5 separate regions of the Homo sapiens genome follow, and all the other regions are linked to region 3. Evidence: fine-mapped expression QTL. A gene starts in region 3. Each other region holds a variant in brackets. All regions are shown on one strand. Distances are between the middles of the regions. Region 1 overlaps MICOS10-DT (MICOS10 divergent transcript). Region 2 has its middle 19 kb from the start of MICOS10-DT. Region 3 holds the start of NBL1 (NBL1, DAN family BMP antagonist). Region 4 has its middle 34 kb from the start of MICOS10-DT. Region 5 overlaps HTR6 (5-hydroxytryptamine receptor 6).

What was found. PIP is the estimated chance that this variant, and not a neighbour inherited with it, causes the effect.
Region 1: its variant is fine-mapped to the expression of NBL1 in whole blood (TwinsUK, PIP 0.95). The same link has a PIP of 0.9 or more in CD4 T cells.
Region 2: its variant is fine-mapped to the expression of NBL1 in whole blood (TOPMed, PIP above 0.99).
Region 4: its variant is fine-mapped to the expression of NBL1 in whole blood (INTERVAL, PIP above 0.99).
Region 5: its variant is fine-mapped to the expression of NBL1 in gastroesophageal junction (GTEx, PIP 0.96).

What each region holds. Positions count from the first base shown.
Region 1 is chr1:19,587,483-19,592,606 of GRCh38, forward strand. It overlaps MICOS10-DT (MICOS10 divergent transcript), which reads right to left. Exons shown (of 2, transcript NR_135054.1): 2 at 4,320-4,403. Among named protein-coding and RNA genes, the nearest start is that of MICOS10-DT, 6.8 kb to the right of the region's middle. The variant C/CA (reference allele first, on the strand shown) is at 2,543.
Region 2 is chr1:19,575,048-19,580,174 of GRCh38, forward strand. No RefSeq gene overlaps it. Among named protein-coding and RNA genes, the nearest start is that of MICOS10-DT, 19 kb to the right of the region's middle. The variant G/A (reference allele first, on the strand shown) is at 2,535.
Region 3 is chr1:19,641,499-19,646,498 of GRCh38, forward strand. NBL1 (NBL1, DAN family BMP antagonist) reads left to right here and starts at 2,813. Exons shown (of 4, transcript NM_005380.8): 1 at 2,813-2,948. The region is part of intron 1 of MICOS10-NBL1 (MICOS10-NBL1 readthrough); the gene reads left to right. RefSeq lists an enhancer at 1,825-2,660 and a silencer at 2,559-2,898.
Region 4 is chr1:19,560,375-19,565,501 of GRCh38, forward strand. No RefSeq gene overlaps it. Among named protein-coding and RNA genes, the nearest start is that of MICOS10-DT, 34 kb to the right of the region's middle. The variant A/G (reference allele first, on the strand shown) is at 2,404.
Region 5 is chr1:19,677,287-19,682,413 of GRCh38, forward strand. It overlaps HTR6 (5-hydroxytryptamine receptor 6), which reads left to right. Exons shown (of 3, transcript NM_000871.3): 2 at 1,281-1,439; 3 at 1,633-3,680. The coding sequence ends at 2,082. It overlaps TMCO4 (transmembrane and coiled-coil domains 4), which reads right to left. Exons shown (of 16, transcript NM_181719.7): 16 at 4,954-5,127. Among named protein-coding and RNA genes, the nearest start is that of HTR6, 15 kb to the left of the region's middle. The variant T/C (reference allele first, on the strand shown) is at 2,805.

The DNA of each region.
Region 1 (5,124 bases), 54 kb before region 3:
GGCTTGGTGGCTCATGCCTATAATCCCAGCACTTTGGAAGGCTGAGGCAGGGGATCACTTGAGCCCAGCCTGGGCAACATGACAAAATACGGTCTCCACACACACACAAAAAAATCAGGTGTGATGGTGGCTTATGCCTGTAATCCCAGCTACTCAGGAGGCTGAGGTGGGAGAATTGCTTGAGCTTGGAAAGCGGAGGTTGCAGAGAGCCAAGATCATGCCACTGCACTCCAGCCTGAGCAACAGAGTGAGACTCTGACTTAAAAAAAAAAAAAGAAAGAACGAATCTAAAGAGGTGAGTCCACAGAAAGGCCCACCTGGTAAGACAGGCATGACTACATGTGCAGAACCAGCAGTTAACGGCAGAGTGGAGACTGGGGTGCAGCTCTCATGATCTTCAATCCAGTGTGCTCCCTGCTGTGTTAGTTCTCTCACGATGTCATAACAAAGGACCACAAACTGGTGGCTTTGAAACAACAGAATTATAGTGTTTCTCAGTTCCAAAGACTGGAAGGCCAAAGTCAAGGCGTCAGCAGGACTGATTCCTTTCAGGGGACTCAGAGAGAGCATCCGTTCCATGCCTTTCTTCTGGCGCCTGGTGCTTGCTGGCGATCCGTGGTCTTCCTTGGCTTATATCCACATAAGCCAAATTATCTGCCTGTGTTGTCACAGGGTCATCTTCTCTGTTTTTGTGTTTCTTCTTCTTTTCTTATGGGGACACCAGTCTTTTTGGTTTAGTGTGCATCTCACTCCAGTATGAGCTAATCTTTTTTTTTTTTTTTTTTTTTTTGAGACAGGGTCTCACTATCGCCAGGCTGGAGTGCAGTAGTAGTGGTGTGATCTTAGCTCACTGCAGCCCTTGCCTCCTGGGCTCCAGTGATCCTCCCACCTCAGCTTCCCAAGAAGCTGGGACTATAGGCATGCACCACCACGCCTGGCTAATTTTTAACATTTTTTGTACAAACAAGGTCTCACTATATTGCCCAGGCTGGTCTCAAACTCCTGGACTCAAGTGATCCTCCCACTTCGGCCTTCCAAAGTGCTGGGATTATAGGTGTGAGCCACAGCACCTGGCCTAATTTTAACTAATTACTTTTTTTTTTTTGACACAGAGTTTTGCTTTTGTCATCCAGGATGGAGTGCAGTGGTGCAATTTCGGCTCACTACAACCTCTGCCTCCTGGGTTCATGTGATTCTTCTGTCTCAGCCTCCCTAGTAGCTGGGATTACAGGCGCCTGCCACCATGCCAAGCTAAGCCACCATGCCAAGCTAATTTTTCTATTTTTAGTAGAGAGGAGTTTCATCATGTTGGCCAGGCTGGTCTCGAACTCCTGACCTCAGGTGATCTGCCCGCCTCGGCCTCTCAAAGTGCTGGGATTACAGGCATGAGCCATCGCACCCAGCCAACTAATTACATTTTCAACAACCCTATTTCCAAATGAGGCCACACTGTGAGGTTCTAGGAAGGACATCAATTTGGGGGGACACTATTGAACCCAGCACACCTTCTTCAAGTTGGCAAGGCATCACTTTAGCAAAATGTCTCTGTCAATTTCCCTTCTCTTTCAGGGCCTCTTTGATTTGATTGGAATCCCCCAGTCCTGCTACATTATATATTCAGAGTACATGACTAGTAGCTCACTCACAGGAAAGAGCAAGCACTACCCCAATGAGATACTAGCAGACACCTACCAGACTGGCAACAATACTAAAGTATCATTACAGCCTAACTGTTGGTGAGGACATGGAGTAACAGGAATGGTCATATGCTGCTGGGGACAATGTAAATTGGTACAATCACTTTGGGATAAAGTTTGGCAGTATCAAGTGAAGCTGAAGGTATACATACCCTATCGCCCTCCTGACTTACATATTCTATAAAAATATATGCCCATTGAGCCGGGCGTGGTGGCTCACACCTGTAATCCCAGCATTTTGGGAGGCTGAGAATGGTGGATCCCTTGAGCCCAGGAATTCGAGACCAGCCTGGGCAACATAGCAAAACCATGTCTCCACACAAAAAAAATATAAAAATTAGCCAGGGATGGTGGCATGCACCACCTGTGGTTCCAGCTACTTGGGAGGCTGAGGCAGGAGGATTGCCTGAGCCTGAGGGGTTGAAGCTGCAGTAAGCCTACTATGCCACTGCACTGCAGCATGGGTAACAGAATGAGATCCTGCCTATATGTATATAAATGCCAGTGTATATCAGGATATTCATAGAAGAATGAGAAGACTTGTTGGCAACAGTCTCAAGCTGAGACCAGGCACAGTGGCTCATGTCTGTAATTCCAGCACTTTGGGAGGCCGAGGCGGGCAGATCACTTGAGGTCAGGAGTTTGAGACCAGCCTGGCCAACATAGCTGAACGGTGTCTCTACTAAAAATACAAAAATTAGCTGGGTGTGGTGGTGGGCACCTGTAGTCCCAGCTATTCAGGAGGCTGAGGCAGGAGAATCACTTGAACCTGGGAGGCGGAGGTTGTAGTGAGCCGAGGTCACGCCACTGCACTCCAGCCTGGGCAACAGAAGGAGACTCAGTCT[C/CA]AAAAAAAAAAAAAAAAAAAAGAAGCCTCAAGCTGGAAACAACCCAAATATCCATGGACAATAGACTAAATACATTGTGGACAGCATATAATGGAATATGATATAGCAACGAAAAAGAACGAACTATAGTTACATACAGAAGCATGGATACTAATGAGGAAAAGAAGCTGAATACCATAACATACAGACTGTATGATTCCAGTTAAGCAAAGTTCAAAATTAGGCAAAATTAAACTATATTGTTTAAGGATATATAACCAGGTAGCAACACTTAAAGAAAAACAAGGAAATGAATAACATAGAAGTCAAGATATACCAGGTGCTGTGGATTACTTCTATAATCCCAGCACTTTGGGAGGTTGAAATGGGAGGATCACTTGAGCCCGGGAATTCATGACCAGCCTGGGCAATACAGCAAGTCCCTGTCTCTACAAAAAGTAAAAAGCAAAAAATTAGCCAGGCATGCTGGCACGTGCCTGTAGCCCCAGCTACTTGGGAGTTGGAGGCAGGAGGCTTCGAGGCTGCAGTGAGCCTTGATTGCACCACTGCATTCCAACCTGGGCAACAGAGTGATACTCTGTCTGGGGAAAAAAAAAAAGTCGAGATAGTGGTTATGCTATCCTGCCTTGGCAAGGAGGGAGCAGTTTGGATCTGCTGAAGGAAATGCAGAGAAGGGTCTTCTGGGGTGCTAGTCATGTTCATTTTACAACAATTTGTTAAGCTGTATTTATGTTTTCTTTTGAGATGGGGTCAAGCTCTGTTGCTCAGGCTGAAGTGCAGTGGCGTGATCATAACTCATTGCAACCTTGAACTCTTTTACTCAAGCAATCCTCTGGACTCAGCCTCCCAAGTAGCTGAGACTACAGCAACTCGTCACCACACCTGACTAATTTTTAATTAATTAATGTATTTATTATTATTATTTTTTGAGGCAGGGTCTCATTCTGTCACCCAGGCAGGAGTGCTGTGATGTGATGTGATCACGGCTTATTGCAGCCTCAACCTCCGGTTCAAGCTATCCTCCCTTCTCCAAGCTATCCTCCCGCCTCTTTTTTTGATTTTTTTGTAGAGACAAGGTCTCACTATGTTGCTCAGGCTGGTCTCAAACTCCTGGACTCAAGAGATCTTCCAACTTTGGCCTCCCAAAGTGTTGGGATTACAGGCGTGAGCCACCGCACCTGGCCATGTTCTTAGCACTTTTCCGAATGCTTGGAATATTTCATACATACACATACATTAAAAAGGGGAGGGGGTCCCTGGGCTTTGGAACCAAACAAAGCAGCTATGTAGTAGATTTTGACTCTGAACACATTCCTGAAGGGACAAAATGATATAGGACCCCTCTTGGAAAAAGAAGATATGAAATACAACAAAAAAATGTGACTCTTCTTTAAGAAAGGAATTAGAGGTTTTTTTTTCCTTTTCTTTTCTCTTTTTTTTTTTTTTTTTTTGACAGGGTCTTGCTCTGTCACCCAGGCTGGAATGCTGTGGCATGATCACAGCTCACTACAACCCAGACCTCCTGGGCTCAAGTGATCCTCCTGCCTCAGCCTCCCAACTAGCTGGGACTCTAGGTGTGCACTACCACACTCAGCTATATGTTTTTATTATTTGTAGAGACAGAGTCTCCCTATGTTGCCCAGGTCGGTGTTGAACTCCTGGGCTCAACCGATCCTCCCACCTTGGCCTCCCAAAGCGCTCAGATTACAGGTGTGAGCCACTGCACCCAGCCTAAGACATTAGTTTTTAATTGAAGAGAAACCATGAAGAAAATCACTGGCATCTAAAAGACCTTTATTTATGCAGGTGCTGTGGTGTAGAACATTCTAATCTGCGACGTTAAGGAAGCTGAATTTACAACCTAGTAAACCAAACAAAGAGTTTATGTTTAGTTGATTAACCAGTTGAGGCTAAAGTCTAGCCTATTCAAGTGACAGACTTTGGTTTTTTATTTTTCTTCAATACAGTGTAAAAAGATGTTGGCTCTCTTCCTCTTACAGGAGTCTGTCTTTATTCATTTGAAATGTAAACTTCTATCTTTGTGAAACCTGTTCCAGACAATTAAGAGCAGTGCTATAATAATAATGAATTACAGAATTCCAATTAGGAGCCAAGCACTATTTTAGGCAGTTTGTAGTTACTAAATCAGTTTGGGCTGGGCGCAGTGGCTCACACCTATAACCTCAGCAGTTTGGAAGGCCAAGGTGAGAAGACTGCTTGAGCTCAGGAGTTCGAGACCAGCCTGGGCAATATGGTGAAACCCCATCTCTACAAAACATACAAAAATCAGCCAGATGTGATGGTGTGCACCTGTAGTCCCAGCTACTTGGGAGGCTGAGCTAGGAGGATCACTTGAGCCTGGGAGGTAGAACTTGCAGTGAGCGAGATTACGTCACTGCATTCCAGCCTGGGTGACAGAGACAGACTCTGTCTCAAATAATAATAATAATAATGATAATGATAAAATAAAATAGCAGGCCAGGTGGTATGTGCTTGTTGTCCTAACTACTTGGGAGGCTGAGGTGGGAGGATTGCTTGAGCCCAGGAGTTCGAGGCTGCAGTGATCTATGATAGTGTCACTG
Region 2 (5,127 bases), 66 kb before region 3:
ACAAAAAATCAAAAAGTTATCCAGCTGTGGTGGCACATGCCTGTAGTCCCAGCTACACGGGAGACTGAGGCAGGAGGATCACTTGAACCCAGGATCCTGGTTGAGGCTGCAGTGAGCCAAGATCCCAAGATTGTGCCATTGAACTACAGCCTGGGCTACAGAGTGAGACCCTGTCTCAAAATTTTAAAAAATAATTTTAAAAAACAAACCAAAAAAAACAGAAGAAACTGAGATTTCCCATATACCCCCTTCCCCAACTCATACACAGTGCTCCCCATTATCAATATCCGCCACCAGAGCAGTACATATGCTACAATTGATGAATCCACGTTGACACATCATTATCACCCAAAGTCCATAGGTCACATTTGGATTAACTCTAGATGTTGTACATTCTGTGGGTTTGGACAACTGTATAATGACGGCCAGATGCAGTGGCTCACACCTGTAATCCCAGCAGTTTGGGAGGCCAAGGTCGGTGGATCACTTGAGCCCAGGAGTTCGAGACCAGCCTGGGCAACATGGCAAAATCCATCTCTACTAAAAACTACAAAAATTAGCCGGGTGTGGTGGTGCGTGCCTGTAATCCCAGCTGCTTGGGAGGCTAAGGCAGGAGAATCACTCAAACCCAGGAGACAGAGGTTGCAGTGAGCCGAGATGGCACCACTGCACTCCAGCCTCGGCAACAGAGTGAGACTCTGTCTAAAAAAAAAAAAAAAAGTATAATGAAATGTATCCACCATAAAAGTATCATACAGACCATTTTCACTGTCCTAAAATCCTCTGTGCTCTGCCGATTCTTCCCTCCCTCCCCGCAACATCTGGACACCACTGATATTTTTACTGCCTCTGTCGTTTTTTTGTTTTTGTTTTTGTTTTGTTTTTGAGACAGAGTCTCACTCTGTTGCCCAGGCTGGAGTACAGTGGCACGATCTCGGCTCACTGCAATCTCCACCTCCAGTGTTCAAGCAATTCTTCCTGCCTCAGTCTCCTGAGTCACTGGGATTACAGGCGCCTGCCACCATGCCTGGCTAAATGTTGTATTTTTTAGTAGAGATGGGATTTCGCCATGTTGGCCAGGCTGGTCTTGGACTCCTGATCTCAGGTGATCCACCCACTTCAGCCTCCCAAAGTGCTGGAATTATAGGCATGAGCCACTGTGCCCAGCCTGCCTCTGTAGTTTTTTTGCCTTTTCCAGGATATCATATAGTTGAAATCATATACTATGCAACTTTTGCAGATTGGCTTCTTTCATTTAGTAATAAGCATTTAAGCTTCTTGCATTCAGCTTTAAGCTAAAGACAGATGTGTCTGAACCTCAGGATAAACAGTCCCTTTTAGGAGCATCCTGCACAGCCAAGGGGGAAAGTCAGGCTGAAGGTCTCATTAATCCACACAGCATCCCTATGCAGCTGTAAAATAGGTGGAGAGAATTGAAGTTGTCTTCTCTTTACAGATAAAGAATTTGAAGTACCAAGCACCATCGCAAGAACATCAAATGAGTACTTCCTATAGCTTTACAGTTTACAAAGGCTCTGAACTCAGGCTTTCCTGAAGGGGGCTTACTCCTCACTTTAGAAATGGCCAGTGGAGGATATAGCATCAGGCCGTTCGACCACCACAATCCCCTGAAATGACCTGAGCAGCATATTCAAGTCAGCGCAGGGGTGAGATTTAAAGTTGCCACAAGAGACCCAGAACTGTGGCTCATGCCTGTAATCCCAGCACTTTGGGAGGCCGAGTCAGGAGGATCACCTGAGGCCAGGAGTTCAAGACCAGCCTGGTCAACATGGCAAAACCCCATCTCTACTAAAAATACAAAAAATAAAAAAAAATAGTCGGGCGTGGTAGCGCGCGCATGTAGCCCCAGCTACTCGGGAAACTGAGGCAGGAGAATTGCTTGAACCCGGGAGGCAGAGATTGCAGTGAGCCGAGATTGCACCACTGCACTCCAGTCTGGGTGACAGAGTGAGATTTCATTTCAAAAAAATAAAAAAATAAAGTTGCCACAACATCCCCAGTTTGTCTCTGGAATCCTCCCAGACTACCTCGTTTTTCCACTCTGCTACTCCTTGTTCATAAATTTCTTGGTTCTCAGCTGACTTTGTTTTGGCTTTACATTACGGTTTCTATCCTCCACCCATGTCTTTGCTGGATGATCTGCTGGGCTTGACTCATTCTTCTGGCTCTCAACAACCATATGGATCCACGCCACTGCCTTTGGTCTTTGTTCTTCAATCCCCCACATTGCTCCCAAAGGGAAGAAGCAGTTCATCTGTGGGATCCACTTGATGTGTCTCACCTTTCACCAGGACCACGAGGGGCGTGGGGGCCTGCCAGCTTCAAGATGGCACAATAAAGGCATTTCTGCTACCATCTTTTAAAATCACTCCAAAATAAGCAGTACAATAAATTTAAAAATATGTATATTATTTAGGAAACCAGGAGACAACAGCAGCCCCTAATCATACTAATTGAACCAGAGAGGGAAAGGGCAACACACACCAGGTGGTTCTGATAATGGTGGGTGTTAG[G/A]GTATTTAGACTAGACCTTGAAGATAGAGAGTTCTTCAGTGTTTCTTTATTCCCAGAGCTTAGCATAGAACCTGGCCAAATCAAGTCCTCATCAAATACTTGTTGAGTGAATTACATCATTATATATATTTATATCCTATAACAGTTATCAGCACATGAAAACATTTTACTATAAGGAGAACTGTTAGAAATGTTTGCTACATTGCTAAGCGGGGCTTCCGTTCTTTCTCTTGGAGAGAGGACCCTTCTACATCCATAGGCTGAGGAAGAGAACTCTGACTAATACCTTTGCCCTGATGATTAGCATTTCATTGCTTCAATTTTTAAAACATTCACAAAATCTGCTCTTTCATTGGCTCTGTTTCAGTCGTTCATTATTTTAATGTGAACTTGGCTCTTATGGAGGTCAGGACTTGATAATTGCATTCAGCCCTTTGCAATTATTGGTAAGAAACCAGGTAAGAAACCACTGACATTTAATATTTAATTGTTTTTGATCAGCATTAATTAGTCACAGATGCACACCAGATTCCCATTTAATTAAATACTCTTGGGAACATATTTTGGGCTCAGGGATTCTAACCACATCAAAAAATAAGTGTTCAACTTTAAAAGTTGGGCCCCAGAGACCCAGGCATCCATGGAGAGGAAATTCCAGATGTCTAGCATTCTCCCTTTTCTTAGAAATAAACCTTCTACTTCTAGCCCTCTGGAATAGAAAGTCTCGGCATTTCTTTTCTCTTTTATTTTATTTATTTATTTTTTGAGATGGAGTCTCACTCTGTCGCCCAGGCTGGAGTGCAGTGGCACGATCTCGGCTCACTGCAACCTCCACCTCCCAGGTTCAAGCCATTCTCCTTCCTCAGCCTCCCAAGTAGCTGGGACTACAAGCATGCACCACCATGCCCGGCTAATTTTTGTATTTTTAGTAGAGATGGGGTTTCACCATGTTGGCCAGGCTGGTCTCAAACTCTTGACCTCATGATCCACCCACCTTGGCCTCCCAAAGTGCTGGGATTACAGGCGTGAGCCACCAGGCCCGGCCTCTTTTATCCTTTTTTTGTTTGTTTGTTTGTTTTTTTGAGACAGAGTCTTCCTCTATCGCCCAGGCTGGAGTGCAGTGGTGCGATCTCAGCTCACTGCAGCCTCTGCCTTCTGGGTTCAAGTGATTCTCCTGCCTCAGCCTCCCAAGTAGCTGGGATTACAGGCACTTGCCACCACGCTCAGCTCATTTTTGTATTATTAGTAGAGACGGGGTGTCACCATGTTGGCCAGGCTGGTCTCGAACTCCTGACCTCAAGTGATCCACCCACCTCGGCCTCCCAAGGTGCTGGGATTACAGGCATGAGCCACAGTGCCTGGCCCTCCTCTCTCTTCTTGCATCATCAGTTTTACCCTCTTTACTGAATCATTCCCATCCACATACAAACATGAGCAAGTTCTCCCATTCTAAAAAAACCCACTGTCAAACCCACCCCTTCTCAAACTATTGCCCTTTTTCGTCCCTCTTTGGAAATAAACTTCTAGAAAAGATTGTGTGCACTTGCTGCCTCCAGCCCCTCTCCTCCTAGTCTCTCTCAAACACACTGCATTTGGACTTTGGCTCCAACTACTCCATGGAGACCGTCCTTGTCAATGTCTCTAAAATTACCTTTCTGATGTTAAGACCAATGGCCACTTCTCCACCCTCTTTCATTTGGCCCAGTTAATCATGTTGTCTTTCTTGAAACACTTCATTTGGCTTCCAGGAGACCATTTTTTCTTGGTTTTCCTCCCGTCCATGTTCCTTCCTTCTCATTTTTCTTTGCTGATTTACCCTGATCTCCCTAGCCTCTAAATGTTAGGTGGTTTTAGCAATGCTTTTAACTTCCATTTGACCTCCCTATTTACTCTGCATTTCCACCTGAATGTTGGCTTAGCCTGGGTTCCTTAGACATCAGAGCCTGAGGCAAAGCTTACACACTCTTGCTCTATTGGAGAAGAAGGAGAGAAAAGGAAAGAAGGCAGGGAGTGAGGGAAAGTAAGGTGCATTGTTGAGCGAGCCAAACATTCACAAGAAAACACAGCTAGTCACTTCGTCACACAGGAACATCTCTAGAGAGGCGAGTGGAACCATAACACCTCCATGCTGCTGCATCTTGGGAAGGAGAAAGTTGGTTTCTGGCCTGCAGAAGAAAATGGAATTCATCTGTTGACTCCTCCTCTCCTGTCTTTCAATGTTAGAAGTTTATCTCTGCACTTCTAAGTTGTGTTCTCTGGCCTCTTTGGGCTGCACTGGGGATAACAGCTCCCTCAGCCCTGGCTGAGAATTTAATCTGGGCTCAGAAACAGTGGGAAGACCTGTAGCCTTTGCAATCTAATCCCCGGAGCGTTATGCACTTCCTGTTGCAGCTTATGATGGGGTCAAGCTGGGTCTGGCGCCCACCCTGGGAAAGACTGAGGCAGCCTTCCATCTCAGCAGAGGAGGCACTTGACTGTGGTGGCCACAGCTCTTCTTCTTCTTCTTCTTCCGTTTTTTTTTTTTTTTTTGAGACAGAGTTTTGCTCTTGTTTCTCAGGCTGGAGTGCAATGGCGCAATCTTGTCTCACCGCAA
Region 3 (5,000 bases):
GCTCATCAGGCTCCACAATTAGCTTTCTGCAATGTGGGAGTGGATTCTTACAAAATGTAGAACTCTACTTTCTACCCTGCTCGGGGTCTGCATGAAAGATGGCGGGGGTAAGCTTTGGCTGCAAAATGGTAAATATTTCCTGAGTGTCTACTGTGTACAGTGCAGTGAGGCTGGTTTCTGCCGTACATGGTATATAGTTATCCAACAGACACTAGCTGGCATGGGCTCTTACTGTGTGACTTTAGGCGAGTTACTTAACCTTTCTCTTGACGTTCCTTTTTTCACTTTTTTTTTTTTTTTTTGAGACAAGGCCTTGCTGGAGTGACAAGCTCATTAGGTTCCACAATTAGCCTTCTGCAATGTTGTCCAGGCTGGAGTACAGTGGCACAATCATAGCTCACTGCAGCCTCAAACTCCTGGGATCAAGTGATCCTCCAGCCTCGGGATTTTTTTCACTTTTATTATTTTATTTGTTTGTTTGTTTATTTATTTATTTATTTGAGATGGAGTCTCACTCTGCCTCCCAGGCTGGAGTGCAGTGGTGCGATCTCGGCTCACTGCAACCTCCGCCTCTCAGGTTCAAGTGATTCTCCTGCCTCAGCCTCCCGAGTAGCTGGGACTACAGGCACACGCCACCACACCTGGCTGATTTTTGTATTTTTAGTAGAGAGAGGGTTTCGCCATATTGGCCAGGCTGGTCTCGAACTCCTGACCTCAAGTGATCCTCCTGCCTTGGCCTCCCAAAGTGCTGGGATTACAAGCATGAGCCACTGCGCCTGGCACTTTTAAAACAGAGACAATACTTACCTCATAGGTTTATTGTGAGAGTGGCAACAGCTTGCAATGGGATGAGGCACATGGTAAGGTGCTCAATATGTGTGAACTATTATAACGGTCATAGTTACCATTAAGGGAAGACCTATCTGTGCTACATTAATGGGGGATAATAATTACTTTATTCGCTGGGCGTGGTGGTTCATGCCTATAATCCCAACACTTTGGGAGGCTGAGGCGGGAGGATCACTTGAGGCCAGGAGTTGGAGACCAGCCTGGGCAACATGGCAAAACCCCATCTCTACTAAAAATACAAAAACTAGCTGGGCGTGGTGGTGGGCGTCTGTAATCCCAGCTACTCGGGAGGCTGAGAATTGCTGGAACCTGGGAGGCAGAGGTTGCAGTGAGCCGAGATCACGCCATTGCATTTCAGCCAGGGCAACAAGAGCAAAATTCTGTCTCTAATAATAATAATAATAACAACAACAACAACAACAACAACAACTTCATTCAACCAAATACATTGTACATCTCACCTGGCCTGCCCATAAGCAATGGAGACACTGAAATAAACACGATTCCTGCCCTCAAGGTCTAATGGAGGAAAGAGATGTACACAGCTATTCTAGAGGGAAATTGACATGAACAGAAGTTCTCATCCTGTGCTCCAGGATCACACTGGAGGAGGGAGATGCTCCCAGAGGGTCTTGGGAAGGCTTTCCAATCTGGAGCTGGAAGAATGTTTGCCCAAGAGATGTACACAGTTATTCTAGAGGGAAATTGACATGAACAGAAGTTCTCATCCTGTGCTCCAGGATCACACTGGAGGAGGGAGATGCTCCCAAAGGGTCTTGGGAAGGCTTTCCAATCTGGAGCTGGAAGAATGTTTGCCAGAGATGAAAGGAGGGGAAGGGAATTCCGGGCAGAGGGAAGGGCGCAGGCAACAGCTAGGAGGCGCAGATGCAGGCTGGGTGTGGAGGGTGCGAGTAGGCTGGAGTACACCAGGGAGTTCCCAGCAGGCCACTAGGAGCCACCCAGGATGCCCGGCAACCTCATGAGTCAGACAAGCAGGGCTGTGTCTATCTGGAAGTTTCCAGCCAAGCTAGGTAAAACACATGGACACAGGTAACTATGCTGTAAAGCAAAATCCCCAAGTCCTACAATCGTGTCCCAGTGGTGTCCCTGGGCCACCACTTTCCAGAAGCAAAGTTATTTTCTCACCCCGTTGTTAAGCACACAGAATAGAGAAGGTACGGCCGCAATCCACCCAAGTGCCCACTGATTAGATAGGAACCCCCGAGGTGAGGCTGGAAGCTGGGGCCAGGAGCTCCACTCTTCCCAGGAGTCAGAGAAGTGAGTTCATTTGCTGGCTTTTTAGTTCCTAATAAGTCCCTGGGGCTTTTCGGGATGCTTAAGCCAAGGGCGTGGGGCCGAGAGCGACACTAGGATAACACTAGGCAAGGCTGAGCAACCCAGGCTACCAACAGCACGGACTTGAACCGGGTCGCATGCCGGAGCGGACGGGATGAGGTGCACCGCAGAACTGGGGACTCCTGGTGCCGGGACGCGGCGGGCTGGGGCGCCCCACTCTCGGGGCAAGTCTGCAATGCCCGGTGCCCACAAAAAGGACACATCCATCTTTGTCACCCCGAGGCCTGGCACGGCCTGACGGCCCAGGCTCGGTAAAAGTCGGGCGGAGAGAGTGGAAGCGCAGAGAAACCCGGGGAGGGCGCTTAAGAACGGGCCAGGGCGCCCGGCTGGGCTGCCCTGCCTCTCGGGCGCCGGCCAGGCGTCCCGGCCGCCCCACCACGCCGTCGGAGCGCGCCGAAGCTCAGCCCGGGGCGGGCGGGCCAGGAGAGGGCCCGGGGCCCCTGCCGCCGCGGCGCCCCCTCCTGCGCACCCGGAGGGAGAGGCCGCGCGCGCCCGCCCGCTCTTTCTGCGCGCGGCCCTCCCCGCTGCCCCCGCCCTCGCGCCCTGTTTGGAGGGAGCCACCCTGACGTCGGAGCCGCTCCCCCGCGCCGCGCGCCCGCCCGGGGCCGCAGACAGCGCGCAGCGCAGCCCAGCCGAGCGTCGCGGGGCCGCCCCCCGCCCTGCCGGCCGCCTCGCCGAGCCTCCTGGGGCGCCCGGGCCCGCGACCCCCGCACCCAGCTCCGCAGGACCGGCGGGCGCGCGCGGTAAGTCCCGCCCGGGTCGGCACGCGGGCGCCCGGCTTCCAGAGGCTTCGGCCGCGGGGGCAGTGCCGCGCCCCCAGCCCGGAGCTGCGTCCCCCGGCGCGTCCGGCGGCCGCGGGCACCGGGTGGAGGCGCCGCCGCCGAGCTCAGGAGCCCTGGGGGACCTGGCGGGCGCCTCCGGACGCCGGCGCTGGGGACGTGGGCGCGGCACGGGGTGGCCGGGGGGCACCGCCGCGTCCGGAGCCCGTCCCCAGACTCGCCCCAGGGTTCCGTTTCTGGATCGGAGTTTCCGCGGCCGGGGGAGAGAGGGAGCGAGGGAGGGAGATGCGTGGCCGGGCGGGCCGGGCTCGCATGTCCCCCGGCCGTGCCCGGGCCTCGCCGCGCCGCGCCTCTCGGCTCTGGACGTTTCCGCCTCCCGCGGCCCCCTCTGCTTCGGTCCCCACGTCCGTGTGTCTGTCTCTCCGTCGCTCCGTTTCCGCCGCTCACTTTCCCCTGGTCTGCCCGTCTCTTTCCGTTCCCCGCCTGCCTCCGTGTTCGGCTGCCCGCGTTTGTGTCTCTGCCTCTGGCTTTTCTCTCCCTCTCTCTGTCTCTGCGCTGCCCTCTGTGGGGGTCTCGCCCTGTGTCTGCGCCTCTCCCTGATCCCCCGCCCTCCGATCCAGACAATCCCCCAGTGTCGGAGGCTCGCCTTCCCCCAGCGGGGTTCACGAATAGTTTCCTAGACCGGGTGCGGCAAACCCTCCCCCTGCCTCCCGCCGGCCCCGAGGCCTGGCCCGGGTCATCTCCCTGGAATTGAGTCTGGGGCAGGGAGAGCCAGCCTTTCCGGGGGCTCAGTTTTCTTAAGAATTCCACCCCCGCGAGGCCGGCTGGACGACAGGCCCTGCTGCGGGCCACCTGCCCGGCCCGCTCCCAGGGCGGGGCGATTCTGATCGTTTACAAGCGGCGGCAAAGGGGGCAGCCGCCTGCCTTGGCGTGGCCGGAGGTTGGCGGGCATCAAGGGAGAAAGCCACACTTCCAGGCTTTCGGAGGCCCTCGCTCCCCAAGCTGGACGCCACCAGCCTGTAACTAGGGGCACCCCAGGAAAACAGAGGTCAGGGCTGGAGGCCAAAGACCGGGCGCTGGCGGGGAAGCAATTTGTCAACAAGGAGCCCCTCACCCTTTGTTACTGCGGAATGGGGCCTCCCTAGACTCCCCCAGATGCTGGGGCTGCTTGGGCGTGGTTTGCCTTGAGTTGGGGCCAAAGAAAAGGCGAGGCTGCAGCGTTTCCTCGGTGACCCCTACCCCTCTCCACCCACCCCTGCAAGCTGGACCTCTCTCCCGGGCCTGTGTTTTGGAGGGGTGGACAGGGGAGTAGGTGTTCTGCATCGGCCAGGGATATCGCCTCATTATTTTAAAGTGAAATTTCAGGCTGAGTTTAGCTGCTTCCCCCCACCCACAACCTCAAGGGTCGGAGGCTGCCGGAGCGGGCAGGGTTGTTGGTGAGGTCTGCAGTGGAACTTCTGCTGAGCAGATGTGCAGCCTGGCCCTGCAGCAGCTCATTAGCATGGATTTGTTTTGGAGACTGTTTTTCGTTTGCGGGCAGGAGGGTCTGCGGTAAGGAGGGCCGTGGCCTGGGTTTGGGGGCTGGCACAGAGGTGGTCAGGGCTGGAAGATGCAGGCAGGCCTGGGTGGCACGGGGTCGGCCCTGTGTGTCCGCCCTCTGGACAGTTGACTCATGCTCTCCCCAGTGCTGAAGGAAGGAAGGAAAAGCCACCCTGCCGTGAGACTGGGGTCGTGGAATCACAGCGGCCTTAAGCAGTATGCTGGAGCCAGGCTCCTCCCTGGGGGATCTGCTGAAATGGACGTTCCCAGGCCAGGCTGCCCATTTTACAGATGCAAACGTGAAGCTGAGGGGGGAAGCAAATGGTCAGTGGCTCGAGCTATAACCATTAGACTCTCCTGACTCCAGGCACACAGAAAGCCAATGTATGAGCTTTGGCCAGAACTCATCCTCAAACCCCAGAGTGAGCCCAGGAAACCCGGTTGGGCTGACCAGAGCCGGGGCCTGACCTGGGTGAG
Region 4 (5,127 bases), 81 kb before region 3:
TGGAGGTTGCGGTGAGCCGAGATTGCGCGATTGCACTCCAGCCTGGGCAACAAGAGCGAAACTCCACCTAAAAAAAAAAAAAAAGTCTTTTTACTTTTCATGGTAATAGTTATTTGCACATGTTCAGCAGGACTATGTCCTCCTTCTTACCAGGACAAATGGATTAATTGTAGCCAAGGCCTCACTTGGAGCATCATATCTGAGAATGGTGCTCACTAAATCAGGTGTGACAGGGCATTTTAAGGGATAAAATTTGTGTTAATACTTACGGAACACACGCCTACAAAGGTCTCCATGAAAACTGGCTTGGGGCCAGGTGCGGTGGCTCACACCTGTAATCCCACCACTTTGGGAGGCCAAGGCAGGCAGATCACCTGAGGTCAGGAGTTTGAGAACAGTATGGCCAACATGGTGAAACCTCATTTCTACTAAAAATATAAAAATTAGCCAGCTGTGGTGGCGGTAATCTGTAGTCCCAGCTACTGGGCAGGCTGAGGCAGGAGAATAGCCTGAACCGGGGAGGCGAAAGTTGCAGGAGCTGAGGTCGCACCACTGCACTCCAGCCTGTATGATAGAACCAGACTCTGTCTTAAAAAAAAAAAAAAAAAAGGGCCGGGCGCGGTGGCTCACGCCTGTAATCCCAGCAGTTTGGAAGGCTGAGGCGGATGAATCACCTGAGGTCAGGAGTTCGAGACCAGCCTGACCAACATGGAGAAACACCATCTCTACTAAAAATACAAAAAAAAAAATTAGCCGGGCATGGTGGCGCATGCCTGTAATCTCAGCTACTCTGGAGGCCGAGGCAGGATAACTGCTTGAATCTGGGAGGCGGAGGTTGTGGTGAGCCAAGATCGTGCCATTGCACTCCAGCCCGGGCAACAACAGCGAAACTCAGTCTCAAAAAAAAAAAAAAAAAAAAAAAAAGAACAAACAAAAAAAACAAAAGTGACTTGGTACCTGATTTACAGATATTAAAGACAGTCACTTCCTGGAAGGCCAGGAACTTTATGATATTCAGAGAACAAAAAAAGAGAAGAATTCACTCAGATATACAGGTTTGACAGGTGAAAGAAATTTTGTGGGAAGCGTCTTGAGCTGGGTGTCTTAACTTTGAAATAACAAATAATAGAGCCTTTTACGATTCCAGCTGGGAAAAGAATAAAGATTCCAATTGGAGATTCCTTATGAAAACTTCTAGACAAAAGCTAATTTTGTAATTGTTTGAAACGACATGGCTGTAAATTTTGTGAAGCACATTTAGGAGGCCTATACGACAAATTAATATTTTTTTTTCTTTGAGACAATGTGTCATTCTGTCGCCCAGGCTGGAGTGCAGTGGCGCAATCATGGCTCACTGCAGCCTCAACCTCCTAGGCTCAGGTAATCCTCCCACCTTAGCCTCCTTAGTAGCTGAGACTACAGGTGTGTGCCACCATGCCCAGCTAATTTTTTGTATTTTTTGTAGAGAAGGGGTTTCACGATGTTGCCCAAGCTAGTCTGGACCTCCTGGGCTCAAGTGATCCATCCACCTCGGCCTCCCAAAAGTGCTGAGGTTACAGGCATGAGCCACCATGTCTAGCTGACAAATTAACTCTCTTGCTGTACCTACATAAACAATCAGACCACATCTAATGAGAACAGTCAATTTTTAAATCAAGAGTCATTTTTCTTTAAGATTATAATGATCCTAAGGGGTTGGGGAGATCATAGGGACAAATTAGAAAAACCTCGACATTCAGTGGGTGTCCTGACTAGCTCAACCCATAGGATTATTTTTGGCCCTTCATTGTCTTTGAGCTACTTTATAGCTCTGTATCTTGTAGAAAGCTGTCAGTAAAACAAATTGTTCTTTTTTTTTTTTTTTTTTTTTTTTGAGATGGGAGTTTCACTCTTGTTGCCCAGGCTGGAGTGTAATGGTGCGATCTTGGCTCACCGCAACCTCCACCACCCGGGTTCAAGCGATTCTGCTGCCTCAACCTCCCGAGTAGCTGGGATTACAGGCATGCACCACCACACCCAGCTAATTTTTGTGTTTTTAGTAGAGACAGGGTTTCATCATGTTGGTCAGGCTAGTCTCGAACTCCTGACCTCAAGTGATCTGCTGCCTCGGCCTCCCATAGTGCTGGGATTACAGGCATGAGTCACTGTGCCCGGCCTGGTTCTTGTCCATAGAAATGCAACTTGTGTCCGGTAGAATGAAATTAATTATTGCCTTGTGGATATCAACCAACTTTGCCAGTTTCGTACCTAATCTGTAAGTTCACTTCCCTGTTCCTTACGCGACTATAACTGTGAGATATTTTGAACTAGTCGTAACATCTTATCAATTCCCTCATTACTTAATGTGTTCCACAAAATCTTTGATATGGGTTCATTTAATATCTGTATGAAAGTCATAATTTT[A/G]TTGTTTTTGAAAATTACCCCTGGACTTAATATATATAAGGTGCTTAGAATAGGGTCTGGCACCAAGTATGGACTCAGTAAATGTTAGCTTTTGTAAGTAACGGATTAATAACATCCCTTGTTTTATAGATGAACAGAATGAAGTGCAGAGGAGACAAGCACATTTGCTTAAATGGCACTGCTTGCTGGAGATGGAGCAGGAGCTAGAAGCCAAGTCTCTGCTATCAAGCCCCTGCTTTCTTGCTGCCACCCCCGCCCCACCCCTCTCCTACCCACAGTCCTCTCTGGCTGTGCTTTGCTGACCCTACACATTCTTTGGGTTTCATTCTGGATCCTTCTAGGCTAGGTTAGCAGCCCCAACCCCAACCTTTGTGTCTTCCCCTGTGAAGCTGGTATTGTAAATATATTGCAACTATCAATTTCTTCATCTAGGCCAGGTGAACTACTGGCTCATGCCTGTAATCCCAGCACTTTGGGAGGCCGAGGTAGGAGGATGGTTTGAGGCCAGGAGTTTGAGACCAGTCTGGGCAGGATAGTGAGACCCCACCTCTAAAAAATAAAAAAAGAAAATCATCTTCATCTAAGCCATGAGCCACACACAACCAAGGACCGAAACTGTCTTGATTGCCACCCAGCCTGGCACACAGCAAGTAGAAACACCAGAAGTGAGGCCTCATATAGGTGTGGTGTTCTCTCCCCTGGGGATGGGGAGCAGGGCTGCTTTCCAGAACTGACTGGAAACCCTCTGCTCCTCCATCCTCTGACGGCCCAAAACTCCCCCAGGCTCCTGGCAGCTCTAGGCAATATCAAGCCTCCTAGAGAGGATGCCTGGAGCCACTAGCCTCTCAAGACTTGAGTTTCTGTTTTGTTTTTTTCCAAATAAAATTCCAGAAATCCAGGTTTAAAAATAACCAAGCAATGCAATCTTCTCCACCAAGCTGCTTGGCAAAAACAAACCCTCAACAAAGACTAGTGTGCAGTCTCACTTCACACTTACTCATTTTCGGCCGCCAACTCAGCTCTGTTTTGGGTGGGGAGGAAAAGCGGGAGGCAGGACTCCCAGGGGCAGAAGCGCAAGGGCACAGGCGCTGGGCAGAAGCTGGGCTGGACCGTAGGGCCGCCCCGGCTTTGCAGGCACACACCCGTTTGGGAAGACAGCTGCTAGAGACTGCTGCGAAGTCCGGTTTTCCTTGGAGTCCCAACTTGCTGGTCTCCAGCCCTGGATCTGGCAAGAGATCAAAGCAGCCCTGGAAAATGGTCTCCATTCGTAATCCAGAATTCATTCTCCTTCCCCGGGGAGACATCAGCTTCTGCCTGAGCCTGCCTTTCCCCATTATTACTTAGGGAACTGGCCGGTCATAATGGGGAGCAGCATTTATGCTCTTGCGGAACAACAACCTCAAGACTCCCCACTTTTTTTGACATGGTCTATTTTCTAACCTGTCATCCTTTTTTTAAGGCCCATTTTGTGGGTGAGAAAAACGTGTGATGGAAGAGAGGAAATTCAGGACCAGAGGCCTGGAAAACTGTCAGATTTCATATTTCCTCCTCCTTTGAATCAGCATTAATGCCCCTCAATGGGGTTTTCCTGCAAATGCTTGTATAACTCCCTTTTAAAACAATTTTTGCTGTTTTTTCCTTTCCCTGCCCCTGGGTAAGTTATTCCAACTGACTACTTTCCACCTCAAAAGAAAGTAGTGGACAGGAAAAAAGTGGTCGTGTGGTCTGTTGGCTACAGCTCCAAGTGGAGCCAGGAGATTTGGGTTCTATTCTGAGCCTTTCTGAGAACATGACGAGGGGGAGGGACACAAACTTGGCTCTTTTACTGGAGTCCAGGGACTCCATGCCAACAGGAGGAAGTTACTTATTCCGGATCAGAAGGGGACCAGGAACTGGCATTTATTAAACACCTGCAAAGCGCCACGCCCTTGACCAACTAGCTCTTTTTTTCTTTTTTCTTTTTTTTTTTTGAAATGGGATCTTGCTCTGTCACCCAGGCTGAAGTGCAGTAGCGCAATCACAGCTCACTGCAGTCTCTGCCTCCCAGGCTCAAGCAATCCTCCCACCTCAGCCTCCCGTGTAGCTGAGACTACAGGCATGTGCCACTGTGCCTGGCTAATTTTTTTGTATTTTTTGTAGAGATGGGGTTTCATCATATTGCCGAGGCTGGTCTCCAATTCCTGAGCTCAAGTGATTTGCCCACTCACCTCGGCCTCCCAAAGTGCTGGAATTACAGGCATGAGCCACCATGCCTGGCCCCAAGTAACTGTCTCTCTTTTTTTTTTTTTCGAGATGGAGTCTTGCTCTGTCGCCCAGGCTGGAGTGCAGTGGCGCAATCTCAGCTCACTGCAAACTCTGCCTCCTGGATTCAAGCGATTCTCCTGCCTCAGCCTCCTGAGTACCTGGGATTACAGGCATGCGCCACCACACCTGGCTAATTTTTGTATTTTTAGTAGAGATGGGGTTTCACCATGTTGGTCAGGCTGGTCTCGAACTCCTGACCTCATGATCTGCCCACCTCGGCCTCCCAAAGTGCTGGGATTACAGGCATGAGCCACCTCACCTGGCCTCTAACTAGCTCTCTTAATCCTCACAACTTTGCGGGTTAGCTTCTGTAACTTCCTTGTTACAGACTGGGACCCGGAAGCTCAGAGAGATGCAGTGAGTTCCTCAGGGTAGCACAGCTTGTTGGTGCTAGAGCTGGGAACAGAGTCCAGCTCTGGT
Region 5 (5,127 bases), 36 kb after region 3:
AAGAGCACTGCTGAGCTAAAGAATGATCCAGCTCAGAGAGCCCTTTGGGACTGTGGGGGCCAGTTTGCAAAGTCAAATTCTAACCTCCCCGGGCCCATGCCTTCCTTTCAGTGGCTGCTGGGAAGTAGCTTCTTTCTCTTCCTCCCTCCTACCCCTTCCTCCTCTTCCTGTCCACTTTTGAGAATGGAGATGCCTGCCAGTTCGCAGTATAATTGAGCTATAAAATGCCAAGGTAACCAGCATCCTTAGGAGCCTATTAAGAGATTTAGCTGCAAACATTGGCTCTGTGCACACATTCTCAAAAAAGCCTTTCTATTTTGTGGGGCTCAAGAGTAATTGCCCAGGCAAGACTATTGCTCCCAAATGTGAAGACAATCCACATACAAAGCAATTGCCAAGCTCTGGACAGTAACAGGTCCTCTTTTTCAAGTACTGTTCAATTGCAATTGATTTTGTGTGTGTCTGTGTGTGTGACAGAGTCTCGCTCTGTCACCCAGGCTTGGAGTGCAGTGATGTGAGCTTGGCACACTGCAACCTCCACCTCCTGGGTTCAAGCAATTCTCCTGCCTCAGTCTCCTGAGTAGCTGGGATTACAGGTGCCTGCCACCACGCCTGGCTAATTTTTGTATTTTTAGTAGAGGCAAGGTTTCACCCTGTTGGCCAGGCTGGTCTCAAACTCCTGACCTCAAGTGATCTGCCTGCCTCGGCCTCCCAAAGTGCTGGGATTACAGGCGTGAGCCACTGTGCCCAGTCAATTGCAATTGATTTCTGTAGCGCTAAAGGCTTTGGAAGGTGCTGGGCTCATTGTAATGTGTGTGTTGGCCTGTGTCACGTATTGTCTTTGCAGGGATGGTTGTTCTTCTGAACCATCTGATTTGTGTTTCAGGTATTGCTCTGTCTCACTGCACTTCCTAGAGCTCCTTATGAAATTCTGGGTCAGGGTCAGGGCTCAGTGTGGGACCAGGATCAGAGCTCAGTCTAGGTCCACAGTTGAGGCTTGGTTTGAGAACTTGGTTATGTAGGGCTTTATGGTAGGTGTCAGGGTTCAGTGGGGGGCCAAGGTCAGGGCTTGGTTTATTGCTGATGTCAGGGCTTGGCCTGGAGTCAGGGTCAGGGCTCAGTCTAGGACTCTAGTTGGGACTCAGTCAAGGAACAGGGCCCAGTTTAATCCTGGCACTAGGGCTCAGTCTAGAATTAGGATTGAAGCTCAGTCTGTGGCTAGGATCAGGGTCAGACGGGGGCCCTTTCTCAACGGACTCATGTGGCCTTCCTTTCCGCAGGTGCCCAGGACCCCACGCCCAGGGGTGGAGTCTGCTGACAGCAGGCGTCTAGCCACGAAGCACAGCAGGAAGGCCCTGAAGGCCAGCCTGACGCTGGGCATCCTGCTGGGCATGTTCTTTGTGACCTGGTTGCCCTTCTTTGTGGCCAACATAGTCCAGGTAATGCCACGGCAGGGGGCAGGTGAGTCCGGCCCTTGCAGGAGAGGCCCTGGATCCCAGCCCAGGCATGGGGACAGGGGAGGGTAGGCTGCCTCTCGTGGTGCGTGTGTGTGTGTGTCTGCTCCATACATGCTGGGAAGGGTGGCCTGGGTCCCTGCCCTGGGACCAGGCATGATGCATCCCCTCCCCCCAGGCCGTGTGCGACTGCATCTCCCCAGGCCTCTTCGATGTCCTCACATGGCTGGGTTACTGTAACAGCACCATGAACCCCATCATCTACCCACTCTTCATGCGGGACTTCAAGCGGGCGCTGGGCAGGTTCCTGCCATGTCCACGCTGTCCCCGGGAGCGCCAGGCCAGCCTGGCCTCGCCATCACTGCGCACCTCTCACAGCGGCCCCCGGCCCGGCCTTAGCCTACAGCAGGTGCTGCCGCTGCCCCTGCCGCCGGACTCAGATTCGGACTCAGACGCAGGCTCAGGCGGCTCCTCGGGCCTGCGGCTCACGGCCCAGCTGCTGCTTCCTGGCGAGGCCACCCAGGACCCCCCGCTGCCCACCAGGGCCGCTGCCGCCGTCAATTTCTTCAACATCGACCCCGCGGAGCCCGAGCTGCGGCCGCATCCACTTGGCATCCCCACGAACTGACCCGGGCTTGGGGCTGGCCAATGGGGAGCTGGATTGAGCAGAACCCAGACCCTGAGTCCTTGGGCCAGCTCTTGGCTAAGACCAGGAGGCTGCAAGTCTCCTAGAAGCCCTCTGAGCTCCAGAGGGGTGCGCAGAGCTGACCCCCTGCTGCCATCTCCAGGCCCCTTACCTGCAGGGATCATAGCTGACTCAGATATCGTGTTCTGAAGGATGCTCCACTGTTGAGTGTAACTTGTGTGTGCAGAGGATGGGCTGGAGGACTCTGGATGTTGGGGAGAAGGACCTCTTGGTTCAGGTTAGGATGAAAACAATCATGACCTTTGCCCATTCTGTCAGGCTGGACGGGAGGGAATGCCCCCACCTGCAGGCATGGATTAATGCTGGGCTGAACCCCTTGCTACTCACAGTGTAGTCCATGGACAATCGGCATTGCCGTCACCTTTGGGAGTTTGTGAAAAATGCACATCTCTGCCCCTGCCCAGACCTGCTGAGTCAGAACTGCATGTTACCAAGATCCCAGGTGAATCATGTGCCCATTACAGTTTGAGATGTGCTGCCTTAGATCATCTTTAACCCTCAGAATGATTTGCTGGATGGTTTTTGGACCTGTCAGTCTCCCCTCCCTGGTATATATGTGGCAGCAGCTGCACCTGGGAGGCAGGCAGGCATGCATGTGGGCCTCTGCTCTACCACCTATGAGCTCTGGGGCCTGACACGAGTTA[T/C]TTAACCTCTCCGAGCCTCGGTTATCCCATGTGTAAGGTAGAGAAATGATGCCTATCTTGCAGGTTGTCTTGAGAATTAAGACAATGTGTGCCCAGCACCCAGTACACGGTCAGTTAATTGGTACGTTCTGTTGTTACGACCCCCGGCTATCCAGCCCCCTGGCCTCTCCGGCTGTGTGTCAGGAAGGGCTCTTTGCTCCCGTTGTTCTCTTTCCATTTGCCTCCCCCTCTTCAGCCCTGGCCTAGCCTCCCAAAGCCTGACTCTGGTTCCCCAACTCCCTGTTCTGGCTCCTGGGTGGGGACCCCATCTCTCAGGGACCCTCCCAGCTCCCAAGCTGCTGCCCTGCCTTTCCTGGGGGCAAAAGGGGCAGGTGGCAGTTTCTTTTTCAGCCTCAGAACTGGTTTTCCTCAATCCTGGGGGGTCCTTGGACCTAGAAGGGAACAACTGATGGGGATAAACCCAGCCCCTTGCCCACCTGCCTCTGGCCTTCCCTGGGGTCAGTGAGAGAAATGGGAATGGTAGCTACTTGGGTCAGCAGAGTAGAGTCAAAGAGCTGTTCCTGGTGTGAGGTGGGGCCCACGAGGCAGGCAGGTGGACTCTGGCACAGGGGCCTTGGTTTCTGGGGGCAGGGGGTTGGGGAACTCTTGGTCGCCAGTTTACCTGCCATAGGTCCCTTTTCAGCCCTGCCTCCCCCAAGTTCCATCAACACAAACTCCCAGGGGGTCCTCCATGCCTGGCCTGGCCCTCTCCTTGGTGCTGATGAGACACAACTCTGGCCCCGGCGGCTGGCCTCTGAGGGGCCATGGTGCTTGCGGGGCTTCCCCTATCCCCCAGGTCTGCCCAAGGGGACTCTCAATAAACTCTAGCTGAAGGCAGTGGCTGTGGTGTGGACTGGATTCAACTGAGGGGCCACTCGGGGCTTGAGAAGCAGCTGGTGTCGTGGGGAGGCCTGGGTGTAGGTGTCCTGGGTTCTGGTCCAGATTCTGCCCCTTCAATCTGGGACCCCAGAAAAATCCTTTCCCCTTTCAGAGCCTCCATTTCCCATGTATGACATGAGCAGCTTAGTTTAAAAGCAACAAGAGTTGCATAAATACTTGTTTTTAAATTTTGTGTTTTAAGAGTTGGAGTTGGCTGGGCATGGTGGCTCATGCCTGTAATCCCAGCACTTTGGAAGGCTGAGGTGGGTGGATCATCTGAGGTCAGGAGTTGGAGACCAGTATGGCCAATATGGTGAAACCCCATCTCTACTAAAAATACAAAAAATTAGCTAGGCGTGGTGGCAAGTGCCTTAATCCCAGCTACTCAGGAGGCTGAGGCAGGAGAATCCCTTGAACCTGGCAGGTGGAGGTTGCAGTGAGCTGAGATCATGCCATTGCACTCTAGCCTGGTGACAAGACAAGACTCCGTCTCAAAAAAAAAAAAAAAAAAGAGTCAGAGTCTCACTCTGTCACCCAGGCTGGAGTGCTGCAGCACAATCATAGCTCACTGCAGCCTCGAGCTCCTGGGCTCAGGTAATCCTCCTGCCTCAGTCTCCTGAGTAGTTGGCAGTGGCTAATTTTTTTATTTTAATTTTTTGTCAAGACTGGGTCTCGCTATGTTGCCCAGGCTGATCTCCAACTCCTGGCCTCAAGCAATCCTCCCACTTTGGCCTCCCAAAGTGCTGAGATTACAGGCGTGAGCCATAAATGTGTGTCGAATGAACAAATGAATACACACGCACCTGAGCAGGGATCTGGCTCCTATGTTCTACGACTCTAATTTTTGCTGCCCTCCTCCCACCTCCCCCAGAGCTTGTCAATCCTTCCTCTGCCTGGGCCTTGATTTCTCCATCTGCACAACAAGGGTGCATTATCTCTGGCCCTGCCATTCAGGGACTGTGGGAGGAACAAAGAGGAAAGCTCTCACGGATGCAGACCCAGTGGCTTGGGACTTGGGCATTAGAGTCTGACATACAGGGGCCTGGAACTTGGCTCCATCGTTAACCAGCTGTTTGGCCTTCAGCAGGTTACCTGATCCCTCTGAGCCTCAGTTTCCCCAAATATAAAATGAAGATAATAATAGTCCCTACCTCATAGGATTGCTGTGAATTCCAACTGACACAACCCAGGCAACCACTTGGTATGTGGTACATGCTCAAGAAGTGGTAGCTTCTTCTTATTATTATTTATTGCTGTTGTTATCCCCTCTGTTCCTGCTACAGGAAATTCTTTCCATGTAAAATTCATTCTTGTCCCCAGGCCTAGTTCACAGCCATACTGAATGCAATTCAGCATGTATTCACCATGCTCTGTTAGTGGTGTCCAGATGTTGCATGACGGGGGA